2 separate regions of the Homo sapiens genome follow, and region 1 is linked to region 2. Evidence: fine-mapped expression QTL. Tissue or cell type: whole blood. Region 2 holds a variant in brackets; the other region holds the start of a gene. All regions are shown on one strand. Distances are between the middles of the regions.

Region 1 (4,160 bases), 83 kb after region 2:
CCTAAATTATTTTATTTTTTAAAGAAAAGATCTGCAGGGCCAGGTGTGGTGGCTCACATCTGTATACCAGCACTTTGTGGGGCTGAGGCAGGAGAACGGCCTGAGCCCAGGCGTTCCAGACCAGCCTGGACAACATGGTGAGACGCTGTCTCCACACACACACACACACACACACACACACACACACACACACCAGCCTGGACAACATGGTGAGACGCTGTCTCTACACACACACACACACACACACACACAGACACACACACACACACACACACACACACACCCTTACAATAAAAACAGAATCCTATTACATCTTTCGCCACCTAGCTAAAGCACTGATCTCTAAGTTATTTTTTCAATGTTTACAATTACCATTTTACATAAACAGAAAAAGAGGCATAGTAAGGTTGAAGTTGGATTATTTAGTCATTTGATAAACACATTTGAAATCCTATCAAAAACCAGGGAATGAGACTCAAAAGTGAGGAAGAAGTGCCCCTCCTCTTGTAGCCTGGTGGAGACAAAAAGTAAAGAAGTAATTACAGGACAAACTAATCAAGATTAAGGTGTGGGTAGGCACATGGGCTGGGGCTGTAGAAATCATGAATGCTTCCTAGGGAAAGTAATTTGTGAGTATTTAGAAACATCTATCTCTTTATTTTCAATACAAAATAAACCTAAAGGACTCGACACTATTCCCTGAAAGGTTATAAGACTTACTTGCCAATAGTCAAGTCAAAAATCAAATTTAATAGCTGAATTACTCTTGACTCCCTATCCTAAATTTCAACCCTTATGCCATACTCCCTTTAGGCACAAATGATAGCAAGTTTAACAAATTCTGTCCTGTATGTGCCTTCTCACATGTCTACAGAATAGGATTAAAGACACACAGCGTGAAATAAATAGCCCTTTTTAAAAAGATAATAATTTTCTTAACTGGAAGTGAATGCTTTGAACAATTCAAGCCCTACAAAGCACGGCTGTCAGAAGAGGAAACTGAGGTTCAAAAAAGTCTCACTTTAATACAACAGAATAAAAGGTCTCTTTGAAGTCATCAGAAGAGCTTGAACGAAAAGAGAAACAGAAGGCTATTGTGAGCTTTAGCCTCCAGATGATGACCCCCCAAACACACTGCAATGGTAAACAAACAAGCCTCTGAGTCTGAATCTGATTCGGTGGACTGACAAAACATCACAATTGAAGGAATCTCTCTCCTCACTCATTACTTTTCCAAAAAAGTCCCACTAGCTGATAGCTCCAGGTTTCTTGCTGGTTCCTAGATTTATTGCTTGGAAATTATAATGCATAGTGGGCCTTTCAAAAAAAAAAAAAGGTACAAGCAAATGAAAACAACCACGGTTTTAAAGCCCCATAAAAGACCGTATATGTAGCAGAAATGAACCCTGCCAATGTTTACTATGAGGACCTATTACTCCTTTATGCTACTCGAGTGGATTTTAAACTCAAATGAATGCTACCACTGCCCACTAAAGAGCAAGTTAGAGAAGCACATTCATACACCTGCTTAACAGCGCCCCGACTGCCGCCCCCACCACTTCCCGGGACCAGGGCCAAGCGGCTGACCTGGAAACGGGGCTGCAGACCCCAGCCACTTACACTCTGCTGTCCCAACAAGTAGGCTCTGGAGTCACACTTCATTTGGCCCGGCACACCCTCATCCCCATCACCCAGACCCTCAGCTGCAAGGAGGAAATTACACGGCCTCAAAAAGGAAAAGGCTGGCGGCGGGCAGAAGTGGATGGTCCTGAGCGGTCTCGTTCCTGCTCCCCTAGTCCAAGGTGAGCCCGGGAATCCCGCAGCCCCCGCCCCCGCCCCCCAACTCGGAGTCGCTTTCCTGGTCGCCGCCGAGCTCCTTCCACCCCGCGGCGCCGGGAGCTGCGGTCCCCATCCTTGGCCCCTCCGGGCCTCAGCGTTCGCCTGGGCCCCAGGGGCCCTGACCCAGACCCAGCGGCGCGCCACAGCCTTCTCGGCCAGGGCCGCCCACCCTGTGGCCCGGTCTCCGTCCGACGACCCTGCCCGGCCCGCGCCAGGCAGCCCGCAGCCCCCTCGCGGCCCGGGGCCGCCCCACGCCGCCCGCCCGCCCGCTGGGCCGCGCACCGTGTGGGACTGCAGGCTCTGGCTCGCCTCGATGGCTGCTGTCAGCGGCACCGTGTCGTCCAGCAGCACCTTGCCGGCTGGCGGCTTCTCCATGAAGGCCATCCCGGGACGCCCGGCCGCCGCCGCCTAGGGACGCGAGGTAGGAACCCGAGGCGCCGACTCCCGCCGCCCGCCCGGTTCCACCGCCGCCGCTGTCAACACGCGCCGCCCCACGCGCCGCCGGGCCCGCGGGGTCCTAGCGCCGCCCTTCCCACGGCCGCCGCCCCGGAGTCCTAGCGCCGACCCAGCGCAGAACGTGTGGGGGCCGCCAGCACTGCCGCCCGCTGGCCCGCTCCTCCGCCTCGCGGCTGCCATGGGCCTGCGCTTCCCTGCTCCTCGCAGCCGCACCGCAGACCCGGTGCCCTTAGCTCCGGGCTTCGGACCAGGGAACACCACCCTAAGCCATCACTACCAGGATCCTCAGATCCAGAGACGCCTGGTCCTGAGCCCTGGGATCCAGGAATCTTCAGGGCGAGATTTCCAAACCAGGCCTCTCAGAACTGGGCTTTTCGGGGACCGTACCTCTTGAAACCCTCAGAACTGGATCTCTCTCATCCCCCAGGCCCAAGGACCCTAAAACTCAGAAAAAGGGCCTTTAGGATGGGACCCCCAGTCTGAGCCCTGCAAACCCAGAGACTTTCTGAAACAAGCCCTTCCTATTGAAACTTCACAGGGACTCTTGAACGTGGCTCCTCAGGCCTGAACACCTAAGAGCTGGACCCCATAATTGGAGGTCTTGGGCCCCAGAACCCTCAGACCCAAGCTCTAAGAACTGGAGACCCTATAAAATGGTCCAGAGACCCCTAGCCTCTACTCTTGGCCCCCACTGCGGGCTCAACCACATCCCTTAGACTTGGGAGTTTTTGATCCCACCATATGGACTAGAAGAACTTCAAACCAAGAGCCAAGCCAGAGAACCTTGGGATCAACTTCTCAGCCCTAAATCTGCCCACAGTCTGCCTGAACCCAAAGCCATAATCCTGGCACCACCTCATCCCCCCCATCTCCATATACACCTAGAAATTTCACCCACACTGCCCTCTCCTAGGGCAGCATTCCAGGATAGTGAAGAGTTAAATTTAGAATTGGAGGACCATCATCTCCATGGCTCTGGCATTTACCAGCTGTGTGATCTTCAATAAGTTACCCAACCTCTCTGAGTCCCAACTCCCCAATTTGCAAAGTGGAGATAATATTATTTGTATGAAAAGGTTAATACAAGGAATGCAGTAGACTGGGAAGGGGCTTGGCACATAGTAAAAACTCAAACGGTGGTCAGGCATGATCGCTCACGCTTGTAATCCCAGCACTTTGGGAAGCCAAGGTGGGTGGATCACCTGAGGTCAGGAATTTGAGACCAGCCTGGCCAACATGGCAAAACCCCCTCTACTAAAAATATAAAAATTAGCTGGGCATGGTGGCACGTGCCTGTAGACCCAGCTACTCTGGAGGCTGAGGCAGGAGAATTGCTTGAACCCGGGAGGGGGAGGTTGCAGTGAGCCAAGATCATACCACTACACTCCAGCCTGGGTGACAGAGTGAGACTCTGTCTCAAAAAACAAACAAAAAAACAGACAAACAAAAACACCTCAAACCGTGGTCAGGCATGATGGCTCACCTTTGTAATTCCAGCACTTTGGGAGGCTGAGGAGAGTGGATGGCTTGAGTCCAGGAGTTTAGCCTGGGCAATATGGTGAGACCCCGTCTCTACAAAAAAATTTTAAAAATACCTGGGCATGATGGCTCACACCTGTGGTCCCAACTACTCAGGAGGCTGAGGTGGGAGAGTTTTTTGAGCACAGGAGGTTGAAGCCGCAGTGAGCCATGATCATGCCACTTCACTCCAGCCTGGGTAACAGAGCAAGACCGTCTCCGGAAAAACAAAAAAAAAACAAAACAAAGTCAATATTAGTTTCCTCCTTCCCCTACAGTTGACAGAATGGAAGGTTCCTAACTCTTAAATTTGCCTCCACTAAATTTCTACACTTCAGATAAGGGAA
Region 2 (4,160 bases):
CCACTGTTATGGGAGGCTAAGGCGGGCAGATCACTTGAGCCCCAGAGCTCAAGACTAGACTGGGCAACATGGCAAAACCCGTCTCTACAAAAAAATATAAAAATTAGCCAAGGGTGGTGGTGCACACCTGTAGTCCCACTCAGGAGGCTGAGGTGGGAGGTTAAGGCTGCAGTGAGCCGTGATTGCACCACTGCATTCCAGCCAAGGTGACAGAGAGAGACCCTGTCTCAAAAAAACAGATAGCAAGGCAACAGGCCTGTCTAATCCCAAAGGAGGGTGGGAGGGAATATTTGTGTGTGTGTAAATTGGGACCTTTAAAACCAATCAGTTCTATGAATAGAGTATAAATACTAGTTGGTGATACTACCATGAAATAAACCAGGATAAAGAATTTTAAAGTCCTGGAAAAAGTGACCTTCCTGAGGCAGAAAACAACCTTTTGCAGAAAAGACAGTGCTAGGAATGTTCTTACTGAAAAAACAGGGGTCTCAGCAAAAGAGTATTAGAGAATCCCACCCCACCCAATGGAACTGCCAGCAGACTTAAAGAAAGGATATTTCTCCCATCAGCTTGGTAAGGACCTCAAGAAGGAGCCCCCAGAGAAGAAGCTACAGTAAGAAAAGGGAGGGGCCCCAACCCTTACATAGTTGCTAGAAAGGGCTCATAAGGGTAAGACCCCTTCACTTAGAAACTGAGATTAAAACCACCTTTAGCTGCCATAAATGTGCTTACAACCGATGCTTTCGGAAAGAAAGGCACTGCTGCTGAATTCAACTTACCTAAGCTCATCTATTGCTGCTGATCTATTGCTGAGCAAACTGCCAAAGGCCAGAGTTCACAGTGGATTTAGGATTTAGAGTGTGCTTGATTAGAAAGAACTGTGAGGCCAGGTGCTGTGGCTCCCATCTATAATCCCAGCAATTTGGAGGCTGAGGTGAGAGGAGTGCTTGTGCCCAGGAGTTTGATACCAACCTGGGCAACATGATGAGACCCCTGTCTCTACAAAAAATTTAAAAATTAGCTGGATGTGGTGGTGCACGCCTATAGTCCCAGCCTCTCAGAAGGCTGAGGCAGGAGGATCACTTGAGCCCAGGAGAAGACCGACCTCCAGTTCTGCAAGGAAGAACAGCCTAAGCATGGGCTGGCCAGCCAAAAGTTGCAATCCTGGCCGGGCACAGTGGCTCAAGCCTGTAATCCCAGCACTTTGGGGGCCGAGGCGGGTGGATCACTTTGAGGTCAGGAGTTCAAGACCAGCCTGGCCAACGTAGTGAAACCCCATCTCTATCAAAAATACAAAAATATTAGCCAAGCGTGGTGGTGAGTGCCTATAATCCCAGCTACTTGGGAGGCTGAGGCATAAAAATCGCTTGAACCCAGGAGGCGGAAGTTGCAGTGAGCCGAGATCTCACGACTGTATTCCAGCCTGGGTGACAGACCCAGACTCTGTCTCAAAAACAAAAATGGTGTAATCCCTAGGCTCAGAGTCCTCCTGCTCTCACTCTGCAGAGGCCTTGAAGGCAGAGCAAGCCTATGTAAATCAAAGATTTGCCAAGCATCTCCTACACACGCCCCATACCCTAGAAGAAGGAAAGCTGTACAGAGAGGCCAAGCAGAATCTGAACAAACAGGCCTTGCTGGGGTTAGATCATACCCTTTTTGTCCAATCACAATGAGATAGAAACTGGGACCGCCCCCAACTTTTAGGGACCTGTAAACCTCAAGGCATGGAAATAAGGGAAAATCCAAATGTTCCTTTAAGAAAAATTCCAGGCATCCAGCTAGCCCTAGAAGTAATTAAGTAACTTGGTAAACAAGAAGGTAATAAGTGGCTTAAGAACAATAGCCAAGGAAGTTAAAGCTCCAGAGAAGTTCCCTTGCCCTATAGAAACTAAAGATAAGATCTTAACATATGTCCCTGAGTTGTCTTTCAAAGGCTCAGGCCTCCACTGAAGACCCTCACCACAAAGATCCCAGATTAGGAGGAAAAGAAGACTAAACTGTACCTATTATCAATCCCACCGTCCTTTGTTCTAAGTTTCTTCTTGAGAGGCTTGGAGAAAGTCACTCCCCCTAGCAAGTTAGCATTTTTCTACTGACCCCAAAATTCTTAGAGCTTCTGCAACTAAGATCAACTGCAAGTCAGATCTCTGAATCTACCTGTGAGCACCCCCTACCCCCAAGATGTCCCGCCCTTTTAAGCTTAAACCAATGTGCAACCTCGGTGTACTGATTTATAATTTTGCCTGTAGCTTCTGTTTTCCTGAAATTTACCCCACCGTTAAAAATCCTTGCCTGTAAGCCATCTGGAAGGTCAGATTTTTGAGCATTTTGCTGC[C/T]TGGTCCTCCTTGCACAGCACTCTGCAATAAATGCCTTCCTTTCTGTCACTGCAACAGCCTTGGTGTGGGTATCTGATTTTATTGCACTGGGTGAGCAGACCAAAATTGGGTTCTATAACAACATTTCTATATGGTTGTCAATCATGCCTATCCAATGACGTCTCCATAAAAGGCCCAAGAGGGCAGGGTTTGGAGAGCTTCCTGATAGCTGAACATGCGGAGGTTCCTGAAGGGTGATGTGCCCAGGGAAGGCATGGAAGCTCCTTCCCCCACACCTTGCCCTATGCATCTTTTCATCTGTATCCTTTGTAACATCCTTTATAATAAACCAGTAAACATGTTTCCCTGAATTCTGTGAGCTGCTCCAGCAAATTAACGGTGGGAACTCCTACTTGAAGCTGGCCGGTCAAAAGTTCTGGAGTCCCATCCTTGCAAATGGTGTCAGAAAGAGCAGGTAGTTTTGGGGACTGAGCCCCAACCTGTGGGGTCTGACGCTATCTCCAGGTAGATAGTGTCAGAATTGAATTGGAGGACACCCAGCTGGTGTCCATAGCAAAACTGATTGCTTACTTGGTGGTGGACAGAACCACTCCCCCACACCCTGACATTTGGTCACAGAAGTCTGTCTGTGTTGATTATTATTGTGTTGAGTGACAGAATAGGGAAAAATACTTTTGAGTGTGAGTTTTTCCTAAACAGTGTCTATCATTTTGGAGCTTCTGAGAGGCACTGGAAATGTGACTCCATGAGAGCTAGGGCCTTGTCTAGCCATTTCTGTAACCCAGGGCCAAGCACAGTCCTTAGCAAACCATAGGTTCTCAGTAAATGCACCTTGAATGTTTATTCTTAAATGAATAAACTCCCTTGGGTTGAAATGCTTAGGGCCTGAAATGCTAGGTTGCCAGGCAAATGCTAAATATTAGTTACCATTTTCATGAGATGCATTACAGGAAATGCCCAGCAGAGGTCAGATTGCAGGCTGAGTCAATTTCATCAACAAAACATTAAGGAGATAAAAGAAAGGAGGAGCCAATATTTGCTGGGAACCTCTCATCTCTGCCAGGCACTCTCACTCTGCCAGGCATTGTGCTGGGGCCTCACATGTGCTTTCCTTCTAAATCCTCAAGACTCCCCTTCAGGCTGGGTGCTATCAAATTCACAGGAATGCCCCTCCCACTCACCTCCAAGTTTTCCCAACATTGACTCTAATTATACAAGATTCCTCTTTTTTTCTCTCATTCTAAAAGTTACCTTATCTCACGCAAACTTACTACTGTATGAGACAGCACCCATTTAAACACAGATAAATTAGAGAATTCCCCCCAAAAGTCCAAATAAATTGTAAATTCCCAAAGGCATTTAGAGATAAGAACCGGCAGTCAAGTGAGCAGGGGCAGATCTAACCACACAGACAGGGGCTGTGAACCCTTAAACAGACGCCTCAAGTGCCTTGCTTGTTAAAGGAGGATTTCTGGATTCTCACTACTAATTTTCTCCAATTTTCTTAATATGCCCAAGTGGTGTTAAATTAATATCCTATCTTCTAGAAAATGGCTTAATATAGTCCGGGCAGTAGATCACCAGACATTTCTGATCAGCCTAAACAGTGTATCTCCATAAAAGACAAAAAAGGCCTATTTTCTGTCTTGATCAACATTTGGGGGCTTTCTTGGGAAATCTGCTGACAAAGATAAGGACAAGAATATCCTCCCATGGACCAGGTACTTTGCTACCCAAAACAGGCCCTAGAACATTCAGCAGTAAGGCACCAGTAGCCACCCTCAGCCAGAAGTAAGTCATTCACACTAGTCCCCTTGCTCTCAT

The links. PIP is the estimated chance that this variant, and not a neighbour inherited with it, causes the effect.
Region 1: it holds the start of PXK, and the variant in region 2 is fine-mapped to the expression of PXK in whole blood (INTERVAL, PIP 0.96).

The regions. Positions count from the first base shown.
Region 1 is chr3:58,331,052-58,335,211 of GRCh38, reverse strand. It overlaps PXK (PX domain containing serine/threonine kinase like), which reads right to left and starts at 2,320. Exons shown (of 18, transcript NM_017771.5): 1 at 2,122-2,320. The coding sequence starts at 2,223. RefSeq lists silencers at 1,476-1,770, 2,017-2,546.
Region 2 is chr3:58,413,929-58,418,088 of GRCh38, reverse strand. All of the region lies in intron 17 of PXK (PX domain containing serine/threonine kinase like), which reads right to left. Among named protein-coding and RNA genes, the nearest start is that of PDHB, 18 kb to the left of the region's middle. The variant C/T (reference allele first, on the strand shown) is at 2,336.